Linked DNA regions of Homo sapiens. The protein of the gene in region 1 interacts with the protein of each later gene in a pairwise test. Each region holds a gene or a part of one and is shown in the gene's direction. Other genes may lie near its edges.

Region 1 (6,619 bases):
GTGGTAAGTGGAGGGGGACTGGCAGCCCACCAAGGGCAGCTTCAAGGTCATGAGTCCCCTCCTCTGGGCCAGGGAGAGGAGGACCAGAAGGAGAGAGGAAGATTTGGAGAGAAAGCAGGCAGCAGCCAGATGAGAGAGGTGGAGGAGCAAAGGAGGGAGTCTTTGCTGTTTGATGGATGAAGAATTTGTTCCCTTATCTCAGATGGACAGACTGAGGCAGGAAGAGGGACAAGGTCAGATGGCCTCCTGAGCCAGGGAGGCAGCCTGGAGGTTTGAATCCTAGTTCTGCCATTTTCTAGTTATGTGATCCTGAGCATGTTGTTTACCTCTCTGAGCCTCTGCTCTAAGATGGGAATAATTCCAAACTCTATAGGATTGGCATGAGGACTAAATGAAATAATGCATCTAAAGTGTCTATTAGTGAGAAGATACTCCATACACAGTGGCTTGTTTTGATCATAAATGGTTCCCTATTTATTTCCAGGGCAGCCCAATATTACAGGTTCCTACTCCTTTCAAGAGAATGAATTTCTTTGTATTAGGAAGTCAAGACTGTTGGCAACTTAACAACATTTTTTTTTGTATTTATGCTTTAAGTTCTGGGGTACACGTGCAGAACGTGCAGGTTTGTTACATAGGTATACATGTGCCATGGTGGTTTGCTTCACCCATCAACCCGTCATCTACATTAGGTGTTTCTCCTAATGCTATGCCTCCCCTAATTCCCAACCCCCCGACAGGCCCTGGTGTGTGATGTTCCCCTCCCTGTGTCCATGTGTTCTCATTGTTCAACTCCTACTTATGAGTGAGAACATGCGGTATTTGGTTTTCTGTTCTTGTGTTAGTTTGCTGAGAATGATGGTTTCCAGCTTCATCCATGTCTCTGCAAAGGACATGAACTCATCATTTGTTATGGCTGCATAGTATTCCATGGTGTAGACGTGCCACATTTCCTTTATCCAGTCCATCACTGATGGGCATTTGGGTTGGTTCCAAGTCTTTGCTATTGTGAACAGTGCTGCAATAAACCTATGTGTGCATGTGTCTTGGGCATTTGCGTTGGTTCCAAGTCTTTGCTATTGTGAACAGTGCTGCAATAAACCTATGTGTGCATGTGTCTTTATTGTAGAATGATTTATAATCCTTTGGGTATATACCCAGTAATGGGATTGCTGGGTCAAATGGTATTTCTTGTTCTAGATCCTTGAGGAATGGCCACACTCTCTTCCACAATGGTTGAACTAATTTACACTCCCACGAACAGTGTAAAAGCATTCCTATTTCTCCACATCCTCTCCAGCATCTGTTGTTTCCTGACTTTTTAAGGATCTCCATTCTAACTGGTGTGAGATGTTATCTCATTGTGGTTTTGATTTGCATTTCTCTAATGACCAGTGATGATGAGCATTTTTCATGTTTGTTGGCTGCATAAATGTCTTCTTTTGAGAAGCATCTGTTCATATCCTTCGCCCACGTTCTAATGGGGTTTTTTTCTCGTAAATTTGTTTGAGTTCTTGTAGATTCTGTATATTAGCCCTTTGTCAGATGGATAGAGTGCAAAAATTTTCTCCCATTCTGTAGGCTGCCTGTTCACTCTGATGATAGTTTCTTTTGCTGTGCAGAAGCTCTGTAGTTTAATTGGATCCCATTTGTCAATTTTGGCTTTTGTTGCCATTGCTTTTGGTGTTTTAGTCATGAAGTCTTTGCCCATGCCTATGTCCTGAATGGTATTGCCTAGGTTTTCTTCTAGGGTTTTTATGGTTTTAGGTCTTACATTTAAGTCTTTAATCCATCTTGAGTTAATTTTTGCATAAGGTGTAAGGAAAGGGGTCCAGTTTCAGTTTTCTGCATATGGCTAGCCAGTTTTCCCAACACCATTTATTAAATAGGGAATCCTTTCCCCATTGCTTGTTTTTGCCATGTTTGTCAAAGATCAGGTGGCTGTAGATGTGTAGTGTTATTTCTGAGGCCTCTGTTCTGTTCTGTTGGTCTATATATCTGTTTTGGTACCAGTACCATGCTGTTTTGGTTACTGTAGCCTTGTAGTATAGCTTGAAGTCAGTTAGCGTGATGCTTCCAGCTTTGTTCTTTTTGCTTAGGATTGTCTTGGCTATGTGGGCTTTTATTTGGTTCCATATGAAATTTAAAGTCGTTTTTTCTAATTCTGTGAAGAAAGTCAGTGATAGCTTGATGGGGATAGCATTGAATCTATAAATTACTTTGGGCAGTATAGCCATTTTCACGATATTGATTCTTCTTATCCATGAGCATGGATTGTTTTTCCATTTGTTTGTATCCTCTCTTATTTCGTTGAGCAGTGGTTTGTAGTTCTCCTTGAAGAGGTCCTTCACCTCCCTTGTAAGTTGTATTCCTAGGTATTTTATTCTCTTTGTAGCAATTGTGAATGGGAATTCACTCATGATTTGGCTCTCTGTCTATTATTGGTGTATAGGAATACTTGTGATTTTTGTACATTGATTTGTATCCTGAGACTTTACTGCAGTTTCTTATCAGCTTAAGGAGATTTTGGGCTGAGATAATGGGGTTTTCTAAATATACAATCATTTCATCTGCAAACAGGGACAATTTGACTTCCTCTTTTCCTAATTGAATACCCTTTATTTCTTTCTCTTGACTGATTGCCCTGGCCAGAATTTCTAATGCTATGTTGAATAGGGGTGGTGAGAGAGAGCATGCTTGTCTTGTGCCGGTTTTCAAAGGGAATGCTTCCAGCTTTTGCCCATTCAGTATGATATTGGCTGTGGGTTTGTCATAAATAGCTCTTGTTACTTTGAGATACCTTCCATCAATACCTAGTTTATTGAGTGTTTTAGCATGAAGGGTGTTGAATTTTATCAAAGGCCTTTTCTGCATCTATTGAGATAATCATGTGGTTTTTGTCATTGATTTTGCTTATGTGATGGATTACGTTTATTGATTTGTGTATGTTGAACCAGCCTTGCATCCCAGGGACAAAGCCAACTTGATCATGGTGGATAAGCTTTTTGATGTGCTGCTGGATTTGGTTTGCCAGCATTTTATTAAGGATTTTCGCACTGATGTTCATCAGGGATATTAACCTGAAATTTTTTTGTTATTGTGTCTCTGCCAGGTTTTAGTATCAGGATGATGCTGGCCTCATAAAATGAATTAGGGAGGAGGCTCTCTTTTTCTATTGTTTGGAATAGTTTCAGAAGGAATGGTACCAGCAACTCCTCTTTGTACCTCTGGTGGAATTCGGCTGTGAATCTGTCTGGTCCCAGACTTTTTTTGGTTGGTAGGCTATTAATTACTGCCTCAATTTTGGAACTTGTTATTGGTCGATTCAGGGATTCGACTTCTTCCTGGTTTAGACTTGGGAGGGTGTATGTGTCCAGGAATTTATCCATTTCTTCTAGGTTTTCTAGTTTATTTGCGTAGAGGTGTTTATAGTATTCTCTGATGGTAGATTGTATTTCTGTGGGATCAGTGGTGATATCCCCTTTGTCATTTTTTATTGTGTCTATTTGATTCTTCTCTCTTTTCTTTATTAGTATGGCTAGCAGTCAGACTATTTTGTTGATGTTTTTCAAAAACCCAGCTTGTGAATTCATTGATTTTTTTTGAAGGGTTTTTCATGTCTCTATCTCCTTTAGTTCTCTCTGATCTTAGTTATTTCTTGTCTTCTGCTAGCTTTTGAATTTGTTTGTTCTTGCTTTTCTAGTTCTTTTAATTGTGATGTTAGGGTGTCAATTTTGGATCTTTCCTGCTTTCCCTTGTGGGCATTTAGTGCTATAAATTTCCTTCTAAGCACTGCTTTAGCTGTGTCTCAGAGATTCTGGTATGTTATGTCTTTGTTCTCATTGGTTTCAAAGAACTTATTTATTTCTGCCTTGATTTTGTTATTTACCTAGTAGTCATTCAGGAGCAGGTTGTTCAGTTTCCATGTAAGGTTATGCGGTCTTGAGTGAGTTTCTTAATCCTGAATTCTAATTTGATGGCACTGTGGTCTGAGAGACTGTTAGGATTTCCGTTCTTTTGCATTTGCTAATTAGTGTTTTACTTCCAATTATGTGGTCAGTTTTAGAATAAGTGTGATGTGGTGCTGAGGAGAATGTATATTCTGTTGATTTGGGGTGGAGAGTTCTGTAGATGTCTATTAGGTCTGCTTGGTCCAGAGCTGAGTTCAAGTCTTGGATATCTTTGTTAATTTTCCGTCTCATTGATCTGTCTAATATTGACAGTGGGGGTTAAAGTTTCCCACTATTATTATGTCGGAGTCTAAGTCTCTTTGTAGGTCTCTAAGAACTTGCTTTATGAATCAGGGTGCTCCTGTATTAGGTGCATATATATTTAGCATAATTAGCTCTTCTTGTTGCATTGATCCCTTTACCATTGTGTAATGCCCTTCTTTGTCTCTTTTGATCTTTGTTGGTTTAAAGTCTGTTTTATCAGAGAATAGAATTGCAACCCCTGATTTTTTTTTGCTTTCCATTTGCTTGGTAAATATTCCTCTATCCCTTTATTTTGAGCCTATGTGTCTTTGCACTTGAGATGGGTCTCCTGAATACAGCACACCAATGGGTCTTGACTCTTTATCCAATTTGCCAGTCTTTGTCTTTTAACTGGGGCATTTAGCCTGTTTACATTTAAGGTTAATATTGTTATGTGTGAGTTTGATCCTGTCATTATGATGCTAGCTGGTTATTTTGTCTATTAGTTGATGCAGTTTCTTCATAGTGTCGATGGTCTTTACAATTTGGTATGTTTTTGCAGTTGCTGATTCCAGTTGTTCCTTTCTATGTTTAGTGCTCCTTTCAGGAGACCTTGTAAGGCAGGCCTGTTGATGAGAAAAATCCCTCAGCATTTGTTTGTCTATAAAGGATTTTATTTCTCCTTCATGTATGAAGCTTACTTTGGCTGGATATGAAATTCTGGGTTGAAAATTCTTTAAGAATATTGAATATTGGCCCCCACTGTCTTCTGGTTTGCAGGGTTTCTGCAGAGAGATCTGCAGTTAGTCTGAAGGGCCTCCCATAGTGGGTAACCCAACCTTTCTCTCTGGGTGCCCTTAACATTTTTTTCTTCATTTCAACCTTGGTGAATCTGATGATTATGTGTCTTGGGGTTATTCTTCTCAAGGAGTATCTTTGAGGTGTTCTCTGTATTTCCTGAATTTGAATGTTGGCCTTTCTTGCTAGGTTGGGGAAGTTCTCCTGTATAATATCCTGAACAGTGTTTTCCAACTTGGTTCCATTCTCCCCATCACTTTCAGGTACATCAATCAAACATAGGTTTGGTCTTTTCACATAGTCCCATATTTTTTGGAGGCTTTGTTCATTCATTCCTTTTCATTATTTTTTCTCTAATCTCATCTTCATTCTTTATTTCATTAAATTGATCTTCAATCTCTGATATCCTTCTTCTGCTTGATCAATTCGGCTATTGATACTTGTATAGGCTTCATGACGTTCTCGTGCTGTGTTTTTCAGCTCCATCAGGTCATTTATGTTCTTCTCTAAACTGGTTAATCTAGTTAGCAATTCCTATAACCTTTTTTCAAGGTTCTTACCTTTCTTGCATTGGGGTTAGAACATGCTCCTTTAGCTTGGAGGAGTTTGTTATTACCCACCTTCTGAAGCCTACTTCTGTCAATTTGTCAAACTCATTCTCCGTCCAGTTTTGTTCCCTTGCTGGCGAGGAATTGTGATCCTTTGGAGAAGAGGTGTTCTGGTTTTTGGAATTTTCAGCCTTTTTGTGCTGGTTTCTCCCCATCTTCGTGGATTTATCTACCTTTGGTCTTTGATGTTGATGATCTTTGGATGGGCCTTCTGAGTGGACGTCCTTTTTGTTGATGTTGATGCTATTCCTTTCTGTTAGTTTTCCTTCTAACAATCAGGCCCCTCAGCTGCAGGTCTGTTGGCGTTTGCTGGAGGTCCACTCCAGACCCTGTTTGCCTGGCTATCACCAGCAGAGGCTGCAGAACAGCAAAGATTGCTGCCTGTTCCTTCCTCTAGAAGCTTTGTCCCAGAGGGGCACCCGCCAGATGCCAGCCAGAGCTCTCCTGTATGAGGTGTCTGTCAGCCCCTGCTGGAAGGTGTCTCCCAGTCAGGAGACACGGAAATCAGGGACTCACTTGAGGAGGCAGTCTGACCCTTAGCAGAGCTCAAATGCTGTGCTGGGAGATCTGCTGCTCTCTTCAGAACCGGCAGGCAGGCTGAAGCCACATCCACAGCTGCCCCTTCCCCCAGGTGCTCTGTCCCAGGGAGATGGGAGTTTTACCTATAAGCCCCTGACTAGGGCTGCTGCCTTTTTTTCAGAGATGCCCTGCCCAGAGAGGAGGAATCTAGAGAGGCAGTCTGGCTACAGCGGCTTTGCCGAGCTGTGTTGGGCTCTGCCCAGTTTGAACTTCCTGGTGGCTTTGTTTACTCTGTGAGGGGAAAACTGCCTACTCAAGCCTCAGTAATGGTGGACGCCCCTCCCCCTACCAAGCTTGAGAGTTCCAGGTCAACTTCAGACTGCTGTGCTGGCAGTGAGAATTTCAAGCCAGTGGATGTTAGCTTGCTGGGCTCCATGGGGGTGGGATCCGCTGAGCTAGACCACTTGTCTCCCTAGCTTCAGCCCCCTTTCCAGGGGCGTG
Region 2 (6,619 bases), on another chromosome or scaffold:
CAGAGGCAGAATGATTGATCTGCACAAGATCACAGAGCTGGTAAGTGGCAAACATCTATTTGAACCAATTCTCTAGATTAGGGCTTAGTTCTTAGTATGATTCTAACAAAACTTCATGATTTTTTCATTGTCTCACCGTACCTAAAGGCCATGGTGTCACTTAATACGTTAGCATTTATCAAGATTTTGTTTTCTATTCAGCATAGAAAAAAACACATGGGCTCAGAATTGTAACACGGCTCATATTAATTTCTACTCATTCTTCTCACTGCATTTACTGTATTAGCCCATTCTCGTGCTGCTATGAAGAAATACCCAGAACTGGGTAATCTATAAAGAAAAGAGGTTTAATTCCCTCACAGTTCCACATAGCTGGGGAGACCTCAGGAAACATACAATCATGGCGGAAGGCACCTCTTCACAGGGTGGCAGGAAAGAGAATGAATGCAAGCAGGGGAGATGCCAGACACTTATAAAACCATCAACTCTCATAAGACTCACTCACTATCACAGAATAGCATGGGGGAAACTGCCGCCATGATCCAATTACCTCCATCTGGTCCTGCCCTTGACACATGGGGATTATGGGGATTACAATTCAAGGTGAGATTTGGGTGGGGACACAGAGTCAAACCATATCACTGCCTGTCTTCTTTCTTATCAGGAGTTGTTATGCATTCAAAGAATTTCCTTGGATAAATTCTGAGTTTTCTAGATTGAATATGGTGAACATGGCCCTTTGGATCCTATGATTCATAGCAATGTAAGAAGCCTGAATCCTTTCTAGAGTACTTTTTCTTAGTAAAGCCTTAGGACTTTCTGAACACTTTCAAACGTATCTTAAAACAATGTATTTGTATTTAAAAACCCCCCACAAAGTTACAAAAATACACACCTACTATTTTTTCTCATCTCTGTATCCCAATTATTATGAGTACTAGCCTCTATCAACTCAAAAACTGGCCAAAGAAAGGATGAAAGTTTGAAAACCCAGGAAGTTAAAATCTACCCAGGGCACTGCTGTGAGATTCCAGTGCAGTGATGTCCTGGTAGGAACAGAACAAGTCACCTTTCAGGCAGGTGCCCTTTACTTTCACATGTTGACAATGGCTCATTCTCTGTTTATATCCATTTCTGCTTTGCAGCCTCAATCCAGGCAGGGACAAGGGACATGTGGCCCGGGGTGTTATTTGATGTGTGGTGTATGTGTACTTCCTTCTCTTGATTTGGCTCTGTTCAATGTGAACTAAAGTGCCCTACTGTTCACATCAGGGTAGGAATCCTATTGGCTCTCAGAACCTTCTAGAGTAGCCGCTATATGACTTCAATAAAAAAGCACTTGGCTTTAACTAATTATAGCCCTGCTCCAGGCTAATTTGTGACCCACATCTCATAGTAAACATTTCTCTCTAACCTTGAAAGGCGACTAAACTGGGACAGTTTTACCCACAGAGTTTAATCAGGTCTCTATTCTAAAGACAAAGTTTTAAGAAACCTGGATAAATTTCATATACGTATGTTTGTAAGTTTTCTTCTTCATAAAATATTTGTCTTTAAAGATAGACTGAAATTTGACAAGATTCTAATTGGATTTACACTCCTTACTTTCCTTGAGAAATACTCTTTTCTATATAGTAATGGGTTGAACTATTTCCCATTCAAGTATTCATTTATCCACTCCGCATGCAACAAGTATTTCATGAATGCTTGTTATATCTCAGGCACAGAATATACAGTTGCAACATACAGATAGGGTCTCTATTGTCATAGGAAAGGAAAAACACATACCAAATAATTAGAGACAAAATTAATAGTTCAATTCTAGTTTTGGAAAAATCAATGGGAGGCACAATGAGAGTGTCTGTGCACGGAATCTGCTTATCTGAGAGCTCTTGGAGGGCTTCCCTGAGAAAATGCAGTTGAGGCTAAGATTTTAAGGATGACTAGGTGCTGACTGTGCAAATTGGGGTAGTAGGAGAAGGAACACTCAGGCCAAGAGGAAATAATATGAAAAGGATAAGATGGAAAGAAGCAAAGAAAAGTCAAAGAACCGTCATAAGGAAGATGGGTGAGACATATTATCACCATGTTATGGATCCATTTATTTTCACTAAAGCTTTACTAATCAGCTTTTACACACAAGGCCCTGTGCCATGGGTTGGAGGTACAACAGAGAGTAGAAACTGCACCCTCTCGCAGCTTGTATTTTGGTGGCAGTTACAATGCTAGAGATAGGTGCTCTAACAAGAGCAGGAAAGAGAAACAACTTCTAACTCACACTGCGAGGTCAGCAAACTAGAAGTGATGTCAATGCTGGTACCTGAAGGATGGGAGGCATTAATGAGACATGTCGTAGTGGAAGTGTGGGGTTGATGAAATGAAGAGTGAATTTGAAGGCCAGAGACTAGAGAGAAAAACAGACAAAGAGAAAAGATGTATTTGGGGAACTAAAATAAGCATAAGTATGAAGATGGAAGTAAAGAGGGGCAATGTGAATGTTTCAGTTTCTTCATCTATTACGTAAGGGCGTTGGACCACGTTCTTTCTAGGTCATAGATTTTGTGATACTATTTTAAACCCATCATGTATACTAGGTAAAGATTGAGAGGTTGTTAATAAGTTTTTGAGGCCACAGAGATAAGCAGTGACAAAGCTCATTTAGTCTTTCAGTTGAATGTACATAAAAGTCACAAAAAACTGCTTTCGATTGGAAGCAATATTACTGACCTGATTTTTTTTCACAAAAATTTGAACACTTTGTTATGTAAAAAACTAAACTGACCTTATTGCAAATATGAATTCTTCCCTCCTTCCACTACTTTTTACTGAAGACTCTTTATTTTTCTCTTTAGATTGAGCCCAGAGTAGACTCAAGTTCTGCAGGGTGTCCGGACAGTACCATGATTACTTGCCACTTGTGTCAGAAGAATAAGTTGATTGACATTGTACAGATTTAATAAGCAAATTGTTGATTTCCTGGTATTTAGCAAGTTGTCAATTAAGGAATAAGACACCAATGTCAGGTTCAGGGTTACCTAAGAATGTGCTCTTGCCTTTACCAAGAAGAATTTGGTGACAGATTCCTATTCCCAAAGTGTTCTTTGAAATGGACAACCTTACATTAACAGATCAAATAGTGTCCAATGTTCAGAATAATTTTAAGTTTTATGAAACTTTTATACAAAAACCTGGTTAGTATGTCATCTGCTCAGACTTATGTATGAAATAGGAACATGTTAGCCAAAATATGAAAATTGCTACTTAGATATCCACTCTACTGGAGACCTAGAAGATAACAAGTTCCTGAGGGTTTTCCAGGAAGGGACATGAGGAAACTGAGAGAGGGAAAACCAGAGTTAGGTCTCAGTTGAAATCCTACATTGTTCTCTGAAGATACCATCCTAATATACAGCTGTTGCCTAAAATGTTGACCAAAAATTGGGAATTATTACATTTTCAGACACTGAATAATTTTTCGGAAATTACACATAATGTCTCCTTTGATCTAAAATGTATCTTTCACTTGGAAATTCTGGTCATTACACCTCTCATAGGGTGAAAGAAAGATATTTGAGAAAACAAACAAAAATAGAGAGCGTGAAAAGTTAAATTTCTTTAGTATAGAAATGGGGCAAACTTGGGAAGTCATGAATGGAATGAATACAATTATGGACAACAATTTAGCCTGGGTTTAGAAACTGCTGACCCACTTGCATATAGTGTACCCTTGAAGTTTGAGTAAAGGAAGATTAGGACAATTACATTGAACAGAAATACTACTAGTGTGTAATGGACTTTGGAACCTACTTGAAGAGGTCATGAAGATAGTATATAGAAATGGAAAAGTTTCCAGCTCTACTTAAGTATGAGCTGAGAAATATACAATATTTCTAGTTGGCATCATATCATATCTTCTGTCTTCATAAGTCTTATGGTCCTCTTGGACACAGGCTGTATGCTCCAGTGAACAATGACCTCATCCCTGTTGGTCATTGTTTTTGTCCCAGTGACCCTATGTTGCTTAGCACATTCATTGACCTGCTCAATCAATATGCCTTGATAATGATTAAGGATTTTAATTATACAGGGTAATGATCTCTTGTTCTTGCTCTATTATCACCCTAATGATAAATGCTAACCTTAATTGAGCACATGCTATTGTATCATGTTCTGTTCTCAGTAGATTTTATAGAACAGGTTTAATTTGGATATAAACCGTATGCTTACTATCATATGCTATGGTACTTTTCATATGCCTATTTAAAGATGAGTAATCTAAGAAACAAATACATTAAGTAACTTTCTCAGTGTCTCACAGTAACTTAATGATGTGGCCAGGATTTAAACTTCAGCAGTCTGACTCCAGAGCCTGTACTTAACCAGTATATTTCTGCCACTACTATGGACCAAATTGGAGAAGTGGCTCAGAAATATTTAGCAATATCCCCTCACTTGCTAACCCAGTGATTCTGACCATTTTTGTCTTTGGAGCCAAATTAGATGTGTTCTATTCTACATTGCATTCTCCTGTTAGGAAAAGAGAAGTGGAAAGATGGTTGAATGGAAAAGAATGGAGTCTTTTGATTGAAATCCTCAATGTTTTACTTTCCTACAGCCTATGTTGACACATTCCATTTGTTTTACCCCAAACTAGGAGTTCCTGTAGGCAAAGCTCCAGAGAGAGTACATATGGTTTATAGCCGGTTCTTTTTACATAGATAGCTGGCCAAATATATAAGCAGAGGGCCGACCTGGAGTGGAACCACTTTGCAATTGTTTGCTCAGAAAATATACTATCAAAGAGTCCTACGGAAAGGGAATGGGGGAAATGAGGGGCTAAGCAGAGCTCTTGTAGTTTTCCATTGAGCAGTGACCTGGGTAATTTACTAAGAGATGTCTGCTGTATTTCTATTTTCTAAGCAGGACCCCAAGTCAATATCTTGCCTATCAAACAAAGGCAACCAGTAAGATAACAGGCATTTGTAGAATTAACACAGAAGCAGGCTATGTTCCTCCTGCCCACTCTCACAGGCACTCTTTTGTCAAAAGCAGACAGACAGACAGACAGACACACACACACACATGCACATACACATAGTGTTTTCTCAGTTTACCAAGAGAACTACCAAGAGCAAACAACTTGTGTATCAGTCTGGTCAATTATAAGAAATGTGGCTATTTCTTCCCTGCAATTTAGTAACTTGACATTTTTCTCTTTCTCTCTTTCTGTCTCTCTTTTTTGTAATCACAGCAGAATCTAAGAAGAAGAAAAAGGAAGGCAAGAAACAGGAGAAGATGCTGGATTAAAAGATGTCACCTGTGGAACATAAAAAGGACATCAGCAAACAGGATCAGTTAACTATTGCATTTATATGTACCGTAGGCTTTGTATTCAAAAATTATCTATAGCTAAGTACACAATAAGCAAAAACAAAAAGAAAAGAAAATTTTTGTAGTAGCGTTTTTTAAATGTATACTATAGTACCAGTAGGGGCTTATAATAAAGGACTGTAATCTTATTTAGGAAGTTGACTTATAGTACATGATAAATGATAGACAATTGAGGTAAGTTTTTTGAAATTATGTGACATTTTACATTAAATTTTTTTTACATTTTTTGGGCAGCAATTTAAATGTTATGACTATGTAAACTACTTCTCTTGTTAGGTAATTTTTTTCACCTAGATTTTTTTCCCAATTGAGAAAAATATATACTAAACAAAATAGCAATAAAACATAATCACTCTATTTGAAGAAAATATCTTGTTTTCTGCCAATAGATTTTTTAAAATGTAGTCAGCAAAATGGGGGTGGGGAAGCAGAGCATGTCCTAGTTCAATGTTGACTTTTTTTTTTTTTAAAGAAAAGCATTAAGACATAAAATTCTTTCACTTTGGCAGAAGCATTTGTTTTCTTGATGAAATTATTTTTCCATCTGAGGAAAAAAATACTAGGAAAATAAATCAAGGTGATGCTGAAAAAAAAAGTTGTTTTTGTGTTCAATAATGTGATTTTGTAACCCTACTCCTTTAGTCATTTATACTTCCCCAGTCAACTTATTAGCACAGAGAAATCGTCATACAAACTAGCTAAGTCACTCTTGGGCACAAAGGTCCCATAGTTTTTTTTTTTTTTTTTGTATTTTCTATCAGTAATTAATAGGTTAAATTGGTACTAATGAATTCAACAAAAATTTCACAATAGTCTAGGGTTTAGTGGAGCAGGAAAATGCTCTTATAGTGGATATATGTGGGCTAGCAACAGTCCAAATCAGGATCACTGTAATGATGTGCAAAATGGTAGTTTGGGCTTAGTTTCCATAAACCAAAAATTTTCACTTTGTTACATGCCATGAGTGCCAAAGGCTATCTGTACAACTTCGTTATCTGTTGGCCTCTAAGCACAACTTTTAAGTAAACAAATCTGTTCTCCTATTATTCAGGGAATAATAGAAAATTCTCTGGGATTATCTTTAAAGTATTTCTCTTGACATGCTCTTTAATTCTAAAGTGATAAGACTCAATAAACAAACACCTATCTACCAAGATAATTGCTAAGTCCGTTTTAGGAAATGATGATTTCAGTCTACCCTGGGCTACCTATAAAATATATAATTACA
Region 3 (5,703 bases), on another chromosome or scaffold:
TAATTCATATTATAAGGTAGAAGTACTAGGTACCTCAGTTGAAATTTGAGGCCGGGCACGGTGGCTCACGCCTGTAATCTCAGCATTTTGGGAGGCCAAGGCAGGTGGATCACGAGGTCAGGAGTTCAAGACCATCCTGGCTAACACGGTGAAACTTCATCTGTACTAAAAATACAAAAAATTAGCTGGGCGTGGTGGTGGGCGCCTATAGTCCCAGCTACTCAGGAGGCTGAAGCAGGAGAATGGCGTGAACCTGGGAGGCGGATCTTGCAGTGAGCCAAGATTGCGCCACTGCACTCCAGCCTGGGCAACAGAGCGAGACTCCGTCTCAAAAAAAAAAAAGAAAGAAAAGTAATTTGATTTTAATTTTGTCCTAGTGGAAACTGGAGAAAGACGCTTTTTCATATTCAGTATTATATAAGAAATGTCATAGTTTTAGCCTTCTAAGAACCACAACAAAGAAGGTGGGATTACTAAAGGAAAAAACATCCTATAGTCTATAAGTATCCTAAATGAAATTTTAGTAAATTTTTAAATCTTTAGTAAGTTACAGATGACAGTTTCTCATGGTACTAATATTGATGTAGTTGAATGTAAGTAGATGTTGTGTGCCACTATTTTTGTTTTTATTTTTAGGTTTTTGAGACGGAGTATCACTCTTATTGCCCAGGCTGGAGTGCAGTGGTGCGATTTTGGCTCACTGCAACCTCCGCCTCCCAGATTCAAGCGATCCTCCTGCCTCAGCCTCCTGAGTAGCCCAACTATAGGTGCCCACCACCACACCTGGCTAATTTTTTGTATTTTTAATAGAGATGGGGTTTCACCATGTTGGCCAGGCTGGTCTCCAACTCTTGACCTCAGGTGATCCGCCTGCCTCAGCCTCCCAAAGTTCTGGGATTACAGGTGTGAGCCACCACGCCTGGCCATGTGCTGCTATTTTCAAAAGCCGAAGCTCTTGCGTTGAGTCAAAGGGAAACAAAGACTTTGGTGACTAGAACCGTAGTGTGTCTTGTTCATGCGTAAGATTAAGGTATTATTTTCTAAACTTGCATTTGTGGTTATTGAGAAATTACAGATCGGTAAAATAATATTATGGTCCAGATTTGAAGTGAAAGATAATCCCTAGGACAGTCAGTTTTTATGGGAGATTTCCTTGTTTTTTCTTTTTTTAATAAAAATGATATCTTAGTTCTATAGTATTTGGTACAGTGCTATGTCCACAAAAGGTTCTTGGATAGTGAATAGGCCAGAACTTGCTTTAAAATTGGCTTCTGTAGAGCAGTGTTTGGATAGACACCTCTGAGAAGACTAGCACTTTGAGCCAATTTGAGAGAGTTGCTGCTGCTGCTGCTGCTACTGCTGCTACTGCTGCTACTGCTGCTACTGCTGCTACTGCTACTACTGCTACTGTTCACCACTGGGATTACAATGTTGCCATATGCTGTGCAGACCAGTTTATAAAATCCAGAGTGGCTGCATGTAGAACATTTTTTTAAATCACTATTGACCATCTAGGTTTCATAGACACCCTCATACATGCAAACATACACCCACAGACGAATATTTTTAAATCACTTTATGAGTAATTTTTAAAAGTAAGATTAAAAGGGATTGTGTAAAACAACTTTAAAATTTTAATAAGAATGTAAGCATGGTAACCATCTTTGTATCAAGTAATGTTTGACTCACAAACATAAAAAGCTGAGAGAGTATAGTTACATCCTTGTAGCAACACAAGATAGTCTAGATACTTGTAAAATATTGGGTGTATGTTCTCCCTGCTGAAATGATTAACTCTATGATAAAATCATTTTTCCTTTCTATGCTTAGAAATATATTTTTTACTGACTGATTCTTAAGTTTGAGAAAATTCACCTAGGATATGTTTTGCTGAAGACTCATCTGAGATTTCACATATGATCGATTTTATCATCTAGACTCTAGAATGTGTCTCTGCATTTGTATTAGTTTCCTAAGACTACCATAAGAAGTAATCCAAACTGGGTGACTTAAAACAACAGAAATTACTTCTCTTTCATTTCTGGAGGCCACATATCCAAAATCAAGGTGTCAGATTTGTGATTTCTTCAGAGACTCTAGGTATCCATTTCTTGCCTCTTCCAGCTTCTGGTGGCTGTGGGCATCCCTTGGCTTGTGGCCACGCCATGCCATTCTGTGCCTCCATAGTTATGTTGCTTTTTCTTCTCTCTCTAAACTTCCTCTGCCTTTCTCTTAAAAAGATGCATGTGATTACACTTAGGGTCCAGCTGGATAATCTGGAATAAACTCCTCAAAACCTTTATCTTAATCACATCTTTTTCCATATAAGATAATTTTCACTCATTTGTCATAGAAAGTAATATTCACAGGTCCCAGGAATTAGAAAGTGAATATCTTTGGGAGGCCATTTTTTAGCCTACCACACCATTCATCTTTTGATTTCTTTAACAGTGGCAAGATGTCTTCCTCTGTCAGTTGTCTCCACTTTGCAAATACTGGATAGGCAGAAAATGAAAACTAAAAACAGGTTACAAAAATGGTGTTTTCAGTCTTCTTTTATACTTTCTGGAGGTGACATGATACTTTGTACAGCACAGTAAAGAAGCTCAACAATGATAAGTTATTGCATCATCCTTTCAGATCATTTTCTTATTTTAATTTCTTTTTATTACAAAAGGGAATAATTGATAAGTAATGATGAAATAATTCCTAGGATGATGAAATGGCAAAATGTTTCAAGATACAGGAAATATAAAAATACTGCAATAATCCTATAATATATCTTAGATTTATGAAAGGGTTCTTTGGACCTCTCTGGTAATTGCAAAATATAATTTATTTTATTCTGTTTTTTTAAATAAGTAAATTTTCTCATTATTTGAAAGACTTAAGAAAAGATAAAAATTATGAAATGCTAATTTATACAAATAGTGAGAACTGCTCAGAAAAGGAACTGAAAAACTAAAAGTGGACCCGTGGAACCCAGTGGTATACTGAGGGTTAATGGTTGAGTTTTTAAACATTTCAGGGGATACCAAAACAAAGAGACAATTTCTAGAATCCTTTAAAAATAACATTCATTAATTCATTCCATCCCCCTTTAAAATAACAAAACAGTTCTATAATTACATTTCCAGTTCACTCTGTCTTACTGTGTTATGTATAATGCTCTTATTATTTTGTTCCAGAATGTCATCATACACTAATTTGGTATTACCCACCTGACCATAGGCTGGTAGTGCAGTTTGTGAAACTAATCAATATTTTAAACATTAAATCACTCTGTGGGAGAATATATATTCGTATTTCTGGCCAGAAGGACTTTAAATAAATAAACAAAATACAAAATCTTCAGTGATTTATCCAGGGTGATAGATCAATGGAAACCAAGGGACCTGTTCGCAAATGTTAATTTCAATTCAGTATTCATGAATCCAGACTGTAAATCTCTACTGATTGACTTTGACTGGCTGAAGGAGACCACAGACTTGCAGAAAAGGGAGGTTTGAGGCAGGGTCAGGGCAGGGTATTCATACACCTATAGAGAATGTCAGAACTCTTGTCTTGTTGCAAGAACATTACATGAACAGGGTATGTTATAAAGTATGGAGATAAGGGAACTAGGTATCCAGTAGAGTTCCTTTAGAACAATTCTTTTAACATAGAGGGTTATTGAAAGATAATGGGTGCTCTCATTTTTACATTTACTATATTTACAGTTAAAAAAGGAAATAGGATAAATTAACATTATGTAAATGAGTTTTCAAGTATAAATACCAGGTCCCTAAATTTTCCATAATCTTAATTTTAGATTCATGCTTACTAATATATTAACAGTACTTTTTGATTCTGGTGTTCTAAATGAGAAGTTCTGTTTCTTGAGCACCTACCAGGCACAAAACTGGAAGTTTGCCCCATTTATACTGTTTAATCTTCAAAACTCCTATGAGGTATTATTATCATCATTGTTTTACAGGTAGACCAAGACTCAGCTTAAGTAACTGCTCAGAGTCACTGTGCCGGAATTTTCAGTTATTGCATGCCTCTTCCCCAACCCCTTCCAGAGGAACCTGGCTGTGTTTTGGACTCAGGATGCTGACCTGGGGCATACCTAATTAGAATAGTGATGGGCTACCGACTCCAGTACATTTAATCCATAGGCTAAATAGTGGTTCACGGCATGGCCTGACACTAAGAGTTCTGTTTAAACTGAGATGAGCCGGGCAAACCTATGTTCTCCTCTGAGAGTGTGGAATTGGATCACTGAGAGATTGGGTGGAGTGAATTTGATACAGAGTGCAGGTGGTGGCCATATTGGCCTGTGAGTATGATAGGAAAGCTGAAATGAGAGAAAATGTGTCGCTTCTAAGCATTGAAAAGAATAGCCTTTGATTCTGATGACATGACTATGAAATTGCCTCGTGTATCCTACAATAAAACCCAATTTTTACCTGAGCTAGTTTGACTGGATATCTGTTCTTTGTATCCACAAGAAGCCTTGACCGAAATGGGTACACATGGTAAATGTCAGGAAGGTTTTGAACCCTGAGTTTTCTAAAATGAAAGCCATTTATTATTTTCACTGTATTTTCTTCCAAGACAGAGAATCCTAAATTAGGAGATATACCTGTTTCTTTTTTGCTATAACTCTTGTACTAGAAGCTACTTATTACACTAAGTTGATGTAGGCACTCATAACAGGTAAAGCAGCATGGCCTTCACAACTGCTAATGGTAATGAAATTAAAGAACTAGTTGGAAATCAATCTTTTTTCTTGCAAGAGAGGAAGGACCCTCTTGTTGCAAAAAGAAAAGCAACAAATTTTATAGAAAAGGCAAAAGACAATAAATTAAGACACGATAACTCTTCTTTTTGTACTGACCTAATGCAGAAGAAAAAAAGTGAGATTGCAAGGTGACTTCTCTAGTAGAATTGCCCTATTTCACATAAGACTTCACATAAGATTACCTGTCAACAGAGTTTATACATGTGTAACTATGTAAAATTTCCTAGTAAGAGTGTAAGAGGAGTAGTGGAGAGAATGAGAACAACTTAACCCAAGGATTCTCAACTGGGAGCATTTGTGTCCAATAAGGGACATTTGGCAATGCCTGGGGACATTTTTGGTTGTCATAAATTTTGGGAATTACTGGCAACTAATGGGTAGAAGCCAGTGATGCTGTTTAGCATCTTGCAGTGCAGGACAGCTTCTCACAACAAATAATTATATGGCCCAAATTGTCAGTAGCACCAAGGTTGAGAAATCCTGCATATAGCTATCCTGAGGTTTTCTACTTGATGTTTACTTCTTGCCCTCACCCAGTATCATTTTGCTGGGTGTGCTCTGTTCCATTTATATTCATCTCCCGACCACTGTCCGTATCTTTCTCCATCAGAATTTTTCTTTTTTTCTAATTTATTAATCAAGAGAACAATTTTCCACTTTCTCCATCTCTTGTCTGTCTTCTCATAAATTTAACCAGCTGTGTGCTGAAGCTAGCTTACCCTGGTTCATGTGGATTTTGTGTATCTCTTCCCAGTTCTGCATTCAGTAATATCACGTTGGTGGCTTGAAATTGGACAGGGTGGTAGTAATTATCCCATGGAAATGTAAACGCTACAAATCAGGGCTCCCCATCCTCCCACCCCAGAACTAGCATACCACTGAATTAACCTTTTAGCCTGCCTTCACTCAAAAACAGC
Region 4 (6,619 bases), on another chromosome or scaffold:
CTCAGACAAGTGAAAGGTTTCTCCTTCTCCCTTCTGTGCCCTGGCTGGTGACACTCAGTTCAAAAACAATGTTTGAATAAAAACATCATTGCTTTATTCAAATCCCTACGGTTTAGCAACACATTTTTTCTTCAAACTATAATGAAAGAGCTTTGTGACCCTCCTACCGCTGGATGGCAGGAAGGAGGTGGAAGAGGAGGGTTGAACTTGAGCCATCCAGGGTTCAGAGTGGCCCTCGGAAGCACAGGGCCAGGGTCCTGGAGACACAGCCCCCGAGGGAGCAGAAGGATCCCTCTAGAGGCAACGACAGACCTCCCAGTACTCGACTTCCCAGATTGCGAATGTCTGATACTGTCGTGGTACTGTTGTCGAAACTAAAAGAGTGACATTGGAACACTACCATTCACCAAACCCCAGCCTTTATTTGGTGCCTCCCATCATCGTGCTTTCCATGACGACTCCTCCCACCCGGGATGCCGCCCAGGACTGCGTCTTGTCCTCCCCTCTCCCTAGTCTCCTGGTCTGACAGCTGCTCAGTCTTTCTTGTTTCTGGTGACCTTGACAGTCTTGAAGAGTCCTGGTTCCCCTCCGCTTCGGGAAGTCTCCCTTTTCTTTTTTAGCTCCCCAGTAGGGGATTACTCCATGAAGACATGCCAGGCTAGGAAGGCAGAGAGGCAACAGAAGGCTGAGGTGGCATTCCTGCTCCCAGACGTGCAAGCAGACAGCTCCTGGAGGCCAGCACCCCCACCATTCTGAATCTTCCCTGTAAATTGCCAGATCAACACCAGCACCTCTGCAGACCCCTTGGCCTGGTGAATGTAACACTGTGCGCTGGTGGACTCCCTTCAGAGGGGCTTTCAGAGCCGCTGGAGCCGCACAAGAAACTCAGTCTCATGACTTTATAGTTGCTCACATCCCTTGGAGCCAAAATATTGTCCAGCCCCCAAGGACTTCTGTTAACTAAAACATGCACACGTATATGCATGCGTATGAATGTGTGCATGTATGGTGTATACACATACACGCAGATGTGTTCACTTATGTATTTGGCTTTCAAAGATGCATATGATGTCCTAAGGGCAGTTTCAGCAGAAGTAGCTACAGCCATAGTTCCACCCCACAAGGCTAAGAAGCATATCTGCATGTGGCCTTCCCAGTCTCCGAGCCGGGGGTGACACAGGCAGATGTAGAGTGTACGGAAAAGAACTGCATGTTTAGATTTGCCCAGGGCCTAATGAGTGCCTCAGTAACCTAGAATATCATCGCTGAGCTCTGTACTCAGACAAAAGTGAACTGAGTCGAGACCGTTTGTGTGCACTCTGACTGGTTCCAAAACAAGGGTTTGTGATGGAAACTTCTGCTGACGGTGCACCTTGGTGCCCTCTCAGGCACCCGAGCGAAACCTGAACTGCAAAGCTGGGGTCTTATGAGTGCCTTTCTATCCTGGAAACCTAGACCCTATCCACTGGCAAAAAAAAAAAAAAAAAAAAAGCTTCTCTCTCCCTTCTGTGGTACCCGAACTGGGGAACCAGGGCTGTGACTGCAGCTGCTGTCCTGTCCTCTGTGGGCGGCCTGCCCAGGGCTCACAGGGTCTGTTTCTTTGCAGAGCTGGAGAAAGAGCTTTCCCGGAGGCCCAAGAAGGTCTGCATCGTGAAGGTGGTGGGGACACGGAACCTGTGGAAGAACATTGTGGTCCTGTGTGTGAACTCGTGAGTCACAGAGGACAAGTGCCAGCTGGGTGGGAGGGGGCCAGGGAAGAAGGTGGGGAGTGGTGAAGCCCAGGGCCCTGCTCCCCACCCCGCTGAACTTGGAATCCTAAGGGTGTGTGTGTGAAGAGTGACACGGGCTAGAAGATATTGACCTCCCCCGCTCCCGGAAGCCTCAAGCAGCCGGTGCCCCCCAGCCCAGGCGTGTAAATCCTGTGAGCAGGGCCTCCCCACCACGTGCCCATGAGGTCCAGGAAACCAAGATGCACATGGACGCACCTCCTCAGGGGCACAGTGGGGGATGCCACAAGGCTGGAAATTCTGGGCCCTGTCTCAGGACAGGGGATTTGAGACCCATGAGGCCTTGGCCCCTGCCTGTAGCCGGCCCCGCCCTTCCTGAACCTGCAGCCAGCCTGGCCAAAGGCCCCAGGACAGCCGTGGGTGGAGGCAGGTGGGCCTGAGCCAGGCCAGTGAGCGCAGACCTCCTCCCAGGGCCCTCACCGGCCCAGGTCGCCCCGCCTGCTGGGTCCTGCAGGGGCTGGGGGCATCACTCACGCAGGTTCTTTGCAGCCCAGTCCCTGGACTTGGTGTGTACCTAGAAGGTCACTCCTGTCTTGAGCTCAGTGGCCCTGACTGTGCAAGGTGGTCCCTTGTTCAGGGTCAGAGGTCACCAAGGTGGCGGAGGGAAGGGATTTGACTCATTTGGGTTAGAGGTCACCTGGGGTGTTGCACTCATTTGTGAAAGGTCTCGAGCTGCCACCAGGTAAAGACAGGCCCAGGGTGAGGGCGAGGGGCCAAGCATCCCCCATGGCTTTTTCTGTCAAAGCAGCTCATCAGTTCTCCATATTGGGGTTCTGGGTTGAAATTGATTTGTGAGGAGTACAAGAGGCTCTACTGCCCAAACAACAGTAGAGCCTCATCCTGAGCTCAGGAGAGAGACCAAGGCCAGGGACCGGCCACGGCCACATCAGGCCAAGCCCAGGGCCTCAGCCTTGGCCACTCTGCTGCTGCCTGGTTCAGGTAGATGCTGGGTGAGCTGGCGGCACTGTTAGGAGTTGAACGGCTTCTCTACATTTTATGTTGGAAAAAAACATGAAATTTGACATAAGATGGTGAGTTTCCATTTTAATGATTCGTTTTGTGGAGACGGGGAACCGAGCTCTCTGGCTCTGTTATCTTCAGATGACCTGTTGTGGTCAGGGGAGACTTCATTTCTACCAGAGCAAGAAGGTAGGAGATTGCCCTGCTATCTCAGCAGGCCAGAAGAGGAACTCTGGAGGCTAACTGAACCAAATCAGTTGCTGGATTATAAAGCCATTGTGCGGGGGCTGGGGCCTCTGCCTATTTCCCAAGAGGAAAGGCATTCACCTGGCAAGGGGTGGCTTCCCCCTATGGGGCAGGGACGGGGTCTGTTACAGTTGACCTTGATGCATTCTCAAGGTTAGATGAGAAGGACGTAGATTTCCCTGAAGCACGAAAGGGTGTTTGGGGAGAGAAGGGGGCAGTTTTTGGCTCTGGGATGGTTGCCAAGAGCAGACATAAGAAGGGTCCCTCGAGGCACCACGGGTGCATCACAGGTACACCCCAAAGGTTCCTGAGAGCCCTGAGGCACCCCATGGATGGCCATCAGCAGCCTCCGTGGGAGGGTGCAGCCACGCCTTTGTTCCTGTTTTCAGGGCAGACACGTTTTTCCAGCAGGTTGATACGCTCGTGTGGGGCAATAAAGAAGCTTGACCCAGGGCAGTGGAGGGGAAACAGGGATAAATTAAGAATCAAAACGGAGGCCGGGTGCGGTGGCTCACACCTGTAATCCCAACACTTTGGGAAGCCAAGGCAGGCGGATCACTTGAGATCAGGAGTTCGAGGCCAGCCTGTCCAACATGGTGAAACCCTGTCTCTACCAAAAAATACAAAAATTAGCTGGGCATGGTGGCAGGTGCCTGTAATCCCAGCTACTTGGGAGGCTGAAGCAGGAGAATCACTTGAACCAGGGAGGGGGAGGTTGCAGTGAGCTGAGATCTTGCCACTGCACTCCAGCTTGGGTAGCAGAACACGGCTCTACTCAAAAACAAAACAAAACAAAAAAAAAAACAGTTTCCTGTGGACCCTATATGTCTTCCATTGGCCTGGCTTCTGCCCGACTCCTCCAGGCTGTGTGGGTGGAGTTGAGGCTGGTATGGATAGATCTCCACCCTTCCAGAACCCTAAGTGCCCAGAAAAGCTGCGTCTCTGAGTTGCCGCTTACCCGCCGAGAGCCTCGTGCGAGCTGCTCTGCCCCCCTGCCCCTGTGAAGTGGGTGTGCAGTGGCTGTTGGATTGCGGCCCTGGGTTAAATGAGTCAGTACCTGGAAAGCGCTTTGTCTTGGAGGATTCCCATGAAAGTGTGTGTTTTAACAAAAGGACTCACTGCTCTTGTGCCCACACCTGTCTATTAAAGCCATGGTAGTGGGGCATGAGCCTGGACCTCCATCAGGAGAAGCATTCCATATTTCTCCCACGTCTCCTCTTTTGCATTGGCTCTGTAATCTGCTCGTGGTTCGGTCATGATGGGCTTTTCTATGACACATTGAGTTGCTTCTTCATCTCCTGGTCACCTGACAGCACGAACTCCCAGGAGGCAGCGCAGCCCCTGGCATGGGGGCAGCCCACCCACTGCCGCTCGGTATGTCTCCACAGGCTGACGGGGTACGGGATCCACCACTGCTTTGCCAGGAGCATGATGGGCCACGAGGTGAAGGTGCCGCTCCTGGAGAACTTCTATGCTGACTACTATACCACGGCCAGCATCGCGCTGGTGTCCTGCCTGGCCATGTGCGTGGTGGTCCGATTCCTCGGGCGCAGGGGAGGGCTGCTGCTCTTCATGATCCTCACCGCCCTGGCCTCACTCCTGCAGCTCGGCCTCCTCAACCGTGAGTGGGTCGGGGAGGTGGGCTGGGTGCAGGGAGGGAAGCTGGCAGATCCCCAAGGGCATTTGAAAGGGCTGCATAAGACTCCGCTGGCCACTCTAAAATCTACTGCTGGAAGGAGCTGCTTTGGGGAGAACAGAGCTTCAGTTGAGAGCATCTGTGGAGCCCGCCTTAGAGGGCACTGGGCCTTCCCGCCTCCCCCTGCCCCTGCCCCGGCCCGGGCTGCACCATGATTCCTTCCGAGTCCTGGTGGCCCAGTCTTTGCTAATAGGTAGACTGCTTCTGTGTGATTCATCACATGACCAAGAAGAACAAAGGATTGTCTCTTTCGAGTGACATTAAGGGGGAAATAAATCTGTTTTGTCACCCTTGCATTAGGGCCCTGCTTTTCAGCAGATGTTCCCGAGTTCATCAGCTTCTCTTTGGACCAAAGAATTTCTCAGTAAAGGTTAAAAATAATCTGGCCGGGTGCGGTGGCTCACGCCTGTAATCCCAGCACTTTGGGAGGCTGAGGCGGTCGGATCATGAGGTCAGGAGTTCAAACCAGCCTGACCAATGTAGTGAAACCCCATCTCTACTAAATATACAAAAAATAATTAGCTGGGCTTGGTGGTACACGCCTGTAGTCCCAGCTACTCAGGAGGCTGAGGCAGAAGAATCACTTGAACTTGGGAGGCAGAGGTTGCAGTAAGCTGAGATCGCAGCACTGCACTCCAGCCTGGGTGACAGAGCAAGACTCCATCTCAAAAAAAAAAAAAAAATCTAAGGCAAAGCTAGAGAGTCCATCTGGCCCTTCCAGCAAGCTCTGTATAGCTCCTCACCAACAAATACCCATTCCCGTGTATGGACAAACCACCACAGCATCTCCGTGGCCAGCCCAGGGCGCGACGTGAACAGGCAGGACCGATGAGCCTCTTCTCCCACCCTGGCACGGTCCTCCTGGGACAGGCTCAGGACACTGCGGGAACATCGACCCCACAGAGCTCCCCTGCCTTTACAAGGAAAATGAACCCGGGCTCTCAGAACTAGACGCCAGGGCTGTCCACCGCACCCAGATCAGAGCGGCCTTGTCGTGCAGCCTAGATTAGAGATGGCTCACTTCAAACTCAGGAGCAGCTTTCTAACTTGGACAGTTCTTATGCAATCTATACCTTGCTGGGAGACTGCTGTTAGGCTTAGCTAATGGATTGCACACGTGGCGCCTGTCTCCCTCCATCCCCGTTCCCCAGCTGCCCTTCCAGGGAGTCTCCTGCTCACACAGTTGGGACGGAAGTGGCAGGGTGCCTCAGCCCCCGGGTGTTGTGGTGCCCCTTTGGCCCTGAGCAGGAATGCACAGGAGCCCCAGGCGAACACCAAGCAGCCGTGAGGAGCAGAGCTGGGGCTGGCAGGGGCACCCCACAGCACTTGACGCAGCTTGAATGCAGGCGGCAGTGACCTGTGGGTGACTTTACATGCAAGGAAGCTCACCCTTTGCACCTGCTGGGGTCTCACTGTGAAGGTTCCATTTTCTCCTCAGGCTCTGAGGCCAGCAGGGTCTCACTCCTGTCTTCCTAACAAAAAGATCTTTGTTTAGCGCAGTATGAATTCCACTGCCCCGGCGGCCAGCGCCATCCCAGACACGGAAGGGAGTTTGCTTGAACCAAGTCGCATGGGAACACGCTAGGCTAACTCCACACCTAATGTGCTCTCTTCTCTCTTCTCGCTTGCTTGGCCCTTGTCCGTGTGGGTGCGATCATGTCTGCGGGTCCAGTGATTGGAAAGTACAGCCAGCACCCAGACTCAGGTGAGTCCCAAGCGCGTGGGCTGTGCTTCCTCGTCTCATATTACATCTAAATGGGTGTTTTCTCGAAGACTCACGGACCTGTGGTTTCCATTTTCTCTTTCTCCCCGTTGCCCTCCAAGAACTGCAGCTGAAGTTGGCCGTAGGTTGGACACTATACGGATACATTTGTATTCTCCCTCTTGCCTCTAGAAAGAGCGACTGGTGCTTCCCTGTTTGTGTGCTGCT
Region 5 (6,619 bases), on another chromosome or scaffold:
ACACGCAGGCCCTGTTCTTACCCGTTTCCCTAAGAAATGTCCCTCAGGCCTGCTAGGGAAACATGTGAGGGGCTCGTGTGGTGTTGTCTGGGAGCTGGGGTGATGGGCTTTCTGGGGTCTGCTGCGGGGTTCGAGGTGGAGGTTCACAGGAGAAGATGCAGGCGTTAGGGGCAGCAGCCCGGAACCTGAAACACACATGCCGAGTGGGAAGTAAGAGGCAGCATGACGGCCCCAGCAGGGACGTTTTTATGAAAATTAGAAATACAAGCTTTCAGCCAGGCACAGTGGCTCACACCTGTAAGCCACTTTGGGAGGCCAAGGCGGGTGGATCACCTGAGGTCAGGAGTTAGAGACCAGCCTGGCCGACATGGAGAAACCCCGTCTCTACTAAAAATACAAAAAAATTAGCTGGGCATGGTGGTGCGCACCTGTAATCCCAGCTACTTGGGAGGCTGAGGCAGGAGAATCACTTGAAGCTGGGAGGCAGAGGTTGCAGTAAGCCAAGATCATGCTACTGTACTCCAGCCTGGGCAATAGAATGAGAGCCAGTCAAAAAAAAAGAAATACAAGCTTTCCTGCAGAACAGAGGGTGAGAAGCAGCCTAGACCAGTGGGTATGTGGGGTGTTGGAGACCCTCCCCAATCAAGGCCAAAGCCCTATAGCCTCCCCAGCCCAGCACCCTCAGGTACCCCTGGAGCCCCCTTACTGGGCCGTAGCTGAGGCCCTTACCTTGCCAGGTCTGGGGGCAGGCACTGGATCTGAAGGGTGGGAAGGGCCCTGGCCCGGGCTCCTTCCTTGCTGGGGCGCCCAGGCCTGGCCTCAGGAGCCCGTCTTTGGCTGGAGGACGGACACTGGACACATAGTCATGGGGAAGCCAGTGCTCCCTGCAGGGGACAGGTACCTGCGACCGAGCTTCCAGAAGGGCCACCAGGGATGGGTGGGGTTGGCTGGTGAGAGTGGCTCCCTAGCAGGTGACAGTGAAGGTGAGATCTGGGGCTGAGTAGGCACTGACCAGGTGAAGAAGGAAGAAAAGGAGCTTCAGGTGCAAAGGCCCTGAAGTCAGCAGCAGGCTCAAGGATTGAAGTGGCTGGAGGGTTGGGGCAAGGGGTGGGAGAGGTCAGTGGGGCCAGACGGGGCCTTGGAGGCCCCAGTAAGGTTTGGGGCTTTGTCCAGAAGCACAGAGGAGGTGATGAGGGCTCAAGCATCTGTTCACGTTGAAGTCTCTCTGGCCAAATGTGGAGAAGCTATTAGGAGGATTCAAATTGAGGATGAAAAACTCACAGGTGACCAGGCCTCTCCTGGCTTGGAGACCTGGCTGGCTCCCTTGGTCCTTGATAAAGGTTAGAGTCCTGGCCTGGCACCCAGGGCCCAGGACAGTGTGCTCTGCCTGCCTGTCCGTGGCCCTCCACTCCCCTCTGCCTCCACACCCCATAGCCACCCTCTGTGCTGAAGCCACAACAGGCTCCCCTCCCTGAGGCACTGTGTACACGCTGTCCCTCCCCCAGCCACCTTCCCCTTCTCCATCCATCAGACTCCTTGGGCAGGGTGAGCCGCTCCTCCTCTGTCTCCCCATTTCTTTGTAGGTGTCGGATTGAGGCCCTTCTCTTTCCCAAGACAGTAATCCTAGAGAGTGCAGGGCAGGAAGTAGTCCCAAGAGTGAGGGAGGTTTTTAGCGACAGCACAAAACGGAAGGGACTGAGTGTCCACCAGGAGGAGTGTGGCTTAGTGGGCCTCCCAGAGCCTTGACTTTGCTGACGGGTTCAGTGTCTCCCGTTGGGAGGGGGCCCCAGAGACAGTTGGTGAAATGTGAGTGCATCCAGCCCTGGAGTTGGTCGGCCTTGTACACGAGGCTGGTGGTTTGCTTTCCCCGGATATGTCAGGTGGAGGCTGACTCCTGGGAGGACGGGGTGAAGGACGGGGTGCAGGACAGGTAGGATTTGACGGCTGGGTGGATGGGGCTCCACGGGAGAAGGCCATGTGTGGGCCTCAGAAGAAGCTGCAGAAGAGGCACTTGTCTCCCACTGTGGGCAAGAGCTCGCCCCTGAGACCTGGAGCTGGGGACTGAGGGCTGCGGGGGTGTCTTGCAGGTTTACTTCAAGGACACCCATCCCAAGTTTCCCGCTGGAGGGAAGATGTCTCAGTACCTGGAGAGCATGCAGATTGGAGACACCATTGAGTTCCGGGGCCCCAGTGGGCTGCTGGTCTACCAGGGCAAAGGTGATTCGGGTCGGAATCCCTTGGTTACACGGCAGGCTCAGAGAATTGGAGAGCTTGGGCGTGCTGGGTGCAGGGTGCAGGCCCCTGGCTCTGTGTGGATGGGTGACTCTCGTCAGGCCAGCTGTCCCTCTCTGGGAACTGAGTCTCCCTGGCTGTAGAGGGGGTAAGTTGCTGGCACAGGGGTTGCAGACAGGCCACTCCTGGGGGCCACGTCTCACCCACTGCCAGCCTCTATTTGGCTTTCTCAGCATCTGAAACAAGCAAGCAAGAGGACAGAGCTGAGCCTCCGGGTTCCCAGCCTCTCCACTGCTCCTGCACCTTCCTCATGGCTCGCGTTAGAATGGCAGCTGCCTCTACCTCGGACCTCACAGTGGGGGCAGGTTCTCCAGCCCCCTCTCCAGCCTCTCCAGCCACCACACATGGCATGTTTGATGGCCGGGCCTCACCCCTTCTCTCTCCCCAGGGAAGTTCGCCATCCGACCTGACAAAAAGTCCAACCCTATCATCAGGACAGTGAAGTCTGTGGGCATGATCGCGGGAGGGACAGGTACACGGAACCCCCCACTGAGGCGTCCGGCGGCTCATGTTAAGGGTGGGGTTGGGGTGTGGGTGAGGCGCAGGTTCTGAGTGCCTGGGAGCTACCAGAGGTCAGGGGCCCAGGCCCAGTGGTCCTGGCCCCTCCACCCCAGTACACCTGGGCGGGGCGGTGCCTGTGAACAGGCCTCGCTCAGCACGTGCGAGGCCCGGCCGGCTATTTTGCAGGCATCACCCCGATGCTGCAGGTGATCCGCGCCATCATGAAGGACCCTGATGACCACACTGTGTGCCACCTGCTCTTTGCCAACCAGGTCAGTGGGCATCCCCATGATGGGGAAACTCAGCTTACCCTGAGAGGGGACTTCGGGCCTGGTCAGGTGCTGTTCCAGGGGTCTGCACAGCTCTGCTGAGATTCTGGGGATGACCGGGATGGGGGGCCCTGAATGTTCTGTGCACTGGCGGCCTTGGCAGCAGCACGGCGGGCAGGCTTTGTGGTGCAGCGCCTGTGTCTGGCTGAGGGGGCTGCCTTGCGGGGAGCTCCCTGAGCACCCCCTCCCCTGGCTGCTTCCTCCAAAACTCAGAACTCCCTTCACCATGAGCACGGTGTGGAACCCACTGGTAGAGTGGGAAGAATGCTGGCCTGGACATGGAGGGGCCCATCTTACAAATGACCAGACATTTGCACGAAGCCCCTGAGCTACAGGGTGTCAGGGCAGGATTTGAATGTTGGTGTCTCTGGCTCCTGATTCATATCCTTGTCCACGAGCCCACTGCCTGCCTGCCCGCCCTGGCCTGCTGTGTGGTCTTGGACGAGCTACTTTCCCTCTCTGAGCTTCACTCCCTCATCTGTAGAATGAGCTGATGAAACTGGGTTGTTGCAAGGTCTTTTCAGGTTAGTGTTTTGTGACTGATGACGTAGATTTGGGGGAGAAGATGCTTGCCTGAGGTCCTTGGATGTGGGTCCTTGCCCCACCCTGCCTCCCCGCAGCTGCAGAAAACTGCCGCAAGGCCAACCAAGATGGCCTTGCCAGGCCCAGGGGAGAAAGAGCCAGAAATTCTAAGCTGGCTGGTGTGGAGGGAGAGAGGGCAGCAGTGAGACTTGGTGGTGCTGGTTCAGAGTCTGTGGAGGCCGTCAGACCGTCTGTCACCTGTACAGGCCATCTTTGCAGCTGGTAGCGAGGGCAGTGTGGTCGCCTCATCTCATACCTCCGAACACAGGCTCCGGGAGGGGCTTGACTGTGCATGTCTCGTGGGAAGTGCTGAAACCAGGATGCAAACCAGGGTTTTATTTATTTATTTATTTTGATACAAAGTCTCGCTCTTGTCCCTCAGGCTGGAGTGCAATGGCACAATCCTGGCTCACTGCAACCTCCGCCTCCCGGGTTCAAGTGATTCTCCTGCCTCAGCCTCCCGAGTAGCTGGGATTACAGGATGTGTGCCACCATGCCCGGCTAATTTTTATATTTTTAGTAGAGATGGGGTTTTACCATGTTGGCCAGGCTGGTCTCGAACTCCTGACCTCAGGTGATCCACCCGCCTCAGCCTCCCAAAGTGTTGGGATTACAGGCGTGAGCCACAGTACCCAGCCTATTTTTATTTTTAAAAAACTATTTTAGAAAACATCATTCTGTTTTACGTTTTTGCAAACCTTGGAATGTCTGGCTTCATAGGACAGCTAGATTCCTGTGTTTGTTTCTACATCCCATCTGTGTGATGTTGCCAGTCACGCAGCCTCTGGAAAGTGGCCCCATCTACTGAGAGAGGAAGAGTGAAAAATACCAGTGTCTCAGTATTATATGAAAACCATTTGGCCTCAGGGATCCTCTCCAGGGTCCCAACCCCAGGGGTCCCCATGCTACACTCCGAGAACCGTGCCAGTCGGGTCATTGCTGCTCGTTTCCTCTCCTACCTTCCTCCGTGACCTCAGTGCCTGGTTTTGAGCTGGGAGCCCCCTACCCTCGAGTAGCAGCCCCCCAAGGTTCCATCCCTCTGTTCATCTGTCAGGTGGGTCGCGGCGGTGGCCACCTCAAAGGATGGTGGTGAGGATTAAAGCATGAGACACACTTTAGCTCAGAGAGGAAGACATAACTTTTTTTAAAAAAATTGAGACGGAATTTCACTCTTATTGCCCAGGCTGGAGTGCAATGGCGTGAATCTCGGCTCACTGCAACCTCCGCCTCCCGGGTTCAAGCGATTGTCCTGCCTCAGCTACCTGAGTAGCTGCGATTACAGGTGCCCGCCACCACATCCAGCTAATTCTTTATATTTTTAGTAGAGACGGGGTTTCACCATGTTGGCCAGGCTGGTCTCGAACTCATGAGCTCAAGTGATCCACCCACCTCAGCCTCCCAAAGTGCTGAGATTACAGGCATGAGCCACCATGCCTGGCCTAAAAAGAAAGTTACACATAGTTAATAGAAAAAGAAAAGTGAAAAGATGCACACAAAAATCCTAACAGTCATTATTTCTGAAGGGTTTCAGGTACTTTTTCTTCCATATTTTCTGTATTTTTTTCCTTGAGTTCATCTAGCCCAAAGCCTGTCCCTGTCCCTGTCCTCACCCCATTAGGGCAGAAAGGGCCCTCAGCCTCCCACCCTCAGAAACTGGAAAAACTGTTCAACACCCCGTGTTCCCTGGGATGTGTTGAGGCTTATGCCCCTCACACAGCTCATCTGCTGGAGGGGAGCACCAAGGAGCTGGTGATTCCCGTATTCAGGCACCCTTGGGCTACGCGGAGGGTGGGTGCAGTTCCCCAGCCCTGGGAACAGAGGAGTCACGTCTGTGGCTGCCTCCTGGGGAGAGTCCACCCCGCCCTTGCCCAGCCTGGGAGCTCAGTAGCGATTTGTTAGTGGGCAGCCCTTTCTGGGTGGCAGCGCTCTTTGGCCCCTGGTTTCTTTGAGTTCCCTGAGGTCAGGGACACTGCACACTGACCTAAGGAGCCCCTTCTGTCCCTGTGTGACCTGCAAACGCTGGGCAGCAGCCTGTGATGTGATCAGAGGTGGAACGGGGGTGGGGGGCGGGGAGTCGGGTGGGGGATTCAGGGGGAGATCCCTGATAGCCCCTGGAGGGTCCAGGAAGCTTTCCTGGAAGGGATGACGCTGGACTGAGTTCTGTAGGGCTCTGTGACAGCCGGGTGGGGGTGGGGGAGCCGCAGGCCAGCCAGGAGGATGGGTGTGGGCAAGGCCCGAGGGGGCCAGGTTGGGTGGGGAGTGGTGTCTGTACTTCCTGGTTTCTGGAGGTACAACCTGAATGAGATCCCAGAACGCAAAAAGACTTGCCGGAGGGCTGAGGGTGCAAATCCTGAGCCTTCTCACGGGGCCATTGCTTATTGTATGTGTTACACCCGCTCCCGGGCTGACCCCCTGGAGTATCTTGGCACATTTCCCGTCTCTTCCCTTTTTGCTGTCGCGCAGCTTGGCCGCCTTTAGTTTTTTCCATTTTTCCCACTCTCGGGACATCGAGCCCATTTCCTCACAACAGCAGAAGCAGTTGACACACTGAGTTTCTAGCGAACGCCTTCGCCCCTTCAGCAGCAGCTTTGAGGGGCTCCTTAGGCTAGACAAGGAGAGAGGGGTGCCAGGGTGATCTCTGGCCGAGTCCCCTCCTGAAAGCTCCGCAAGCGTGTGGCCCGCAGGCGGGCGCGATGACGAGGCGCGTCTCTGTTGAGTGTCTCCAGGGGCAGTCTGCCACCCATCCTTCCTGACTGCCTGGCCCTGTCCCCTGCAGACCGAGAAGGACATCCTGCTGCGACCTGAGCTGGAGGAACTCAGGAACAAACATTCTGCACGCTTCAAGCTCTGGTACACGCTGGACAGAGCCCCTGAAGGTGAGTGAGGGAGGCCCCTCACTGGGTGGGTGGGAGGTG

What was found.
Region 2: the proteins of WFDC2 (region 1) and PTN interact in a two-hybrid assay, tested with the Homo sapiens proteins (one large-scale study listed by BioGRID and IntAct).
Region 3: the proteins of WFDC2 (region 1) and GORAB interact in binary tests that used the Homo sapiens proteins (3 or more experiments, as listed by UniProt).
Region 4: the proteins of WFDC2 (region 1) and SLC22A23 interact in binary tests that used the Homo sapiens proteins (3 or more experiments, as listed by UniProt).
Region 5: the proteins of WFDC2 (region 1) and CYB5R3 interact in binary tests that used the Homo sapiens proteins (3 or more experiments, as listed by UniProt).

The regions. Positions count from the first base shown.
Region 1 is NC_000020.11:45,471,548-45,478,166, forward strand, and holds part of WFDC2 (WAP four-disulfide core domain protein 2 precursor), read left to right. Parts: intron 1-6,619.
Region 2 is NC_000007.14:137,226,708-137,233,326, reverse strand, and holds the end of PTN (pleiotrophin isoform 1 precursor), read left to right. Parts: intron 1-5,251; coding exon 5,252-5,307; 3' UTR 5,308-5,986; downstream 5,987-6,619.
Region 3 is NC_000001.11:170,546,060-170,551,762, forward strand, and holds part of GORAB (RAB6-interacting golgin), read left to right. Parts: intron 1-5,703.
Region 4 is NC_000006.12:3,284,854-3,291,472, reverse strand, and holds part of SLC22A23 (solute carrier family 22 member 23), read left to right. Parts: intron 1-1,606; coding exon 1,607-1,709; intron 1,710-4,381; coding exon 4,382-4,614; intron 4,615-6,361; coding exon 6,362-6,394; intron 6,395-6,619.
Region 5 is NC_000022.11:42,623,750-42,630,368, reverse strand, and holds part of CYB5R3 (NADH-cytochrome b5 reductase 3), read left to right. Parts: intron 1-2,087; coding exon 2,088-2,217; intron 2,218-2,680; coding exon 2,681-2,764; intron 2,765-2,979; coding exon 2,980-3,065; intron 3,066-6,480; coding exon 6,481-6,580; intron 6,581-6,619. UniProt on the Homo sapiens protein: Catalyzes the reduction of two molecules of cytochrome b5 using NADH as the electron donor.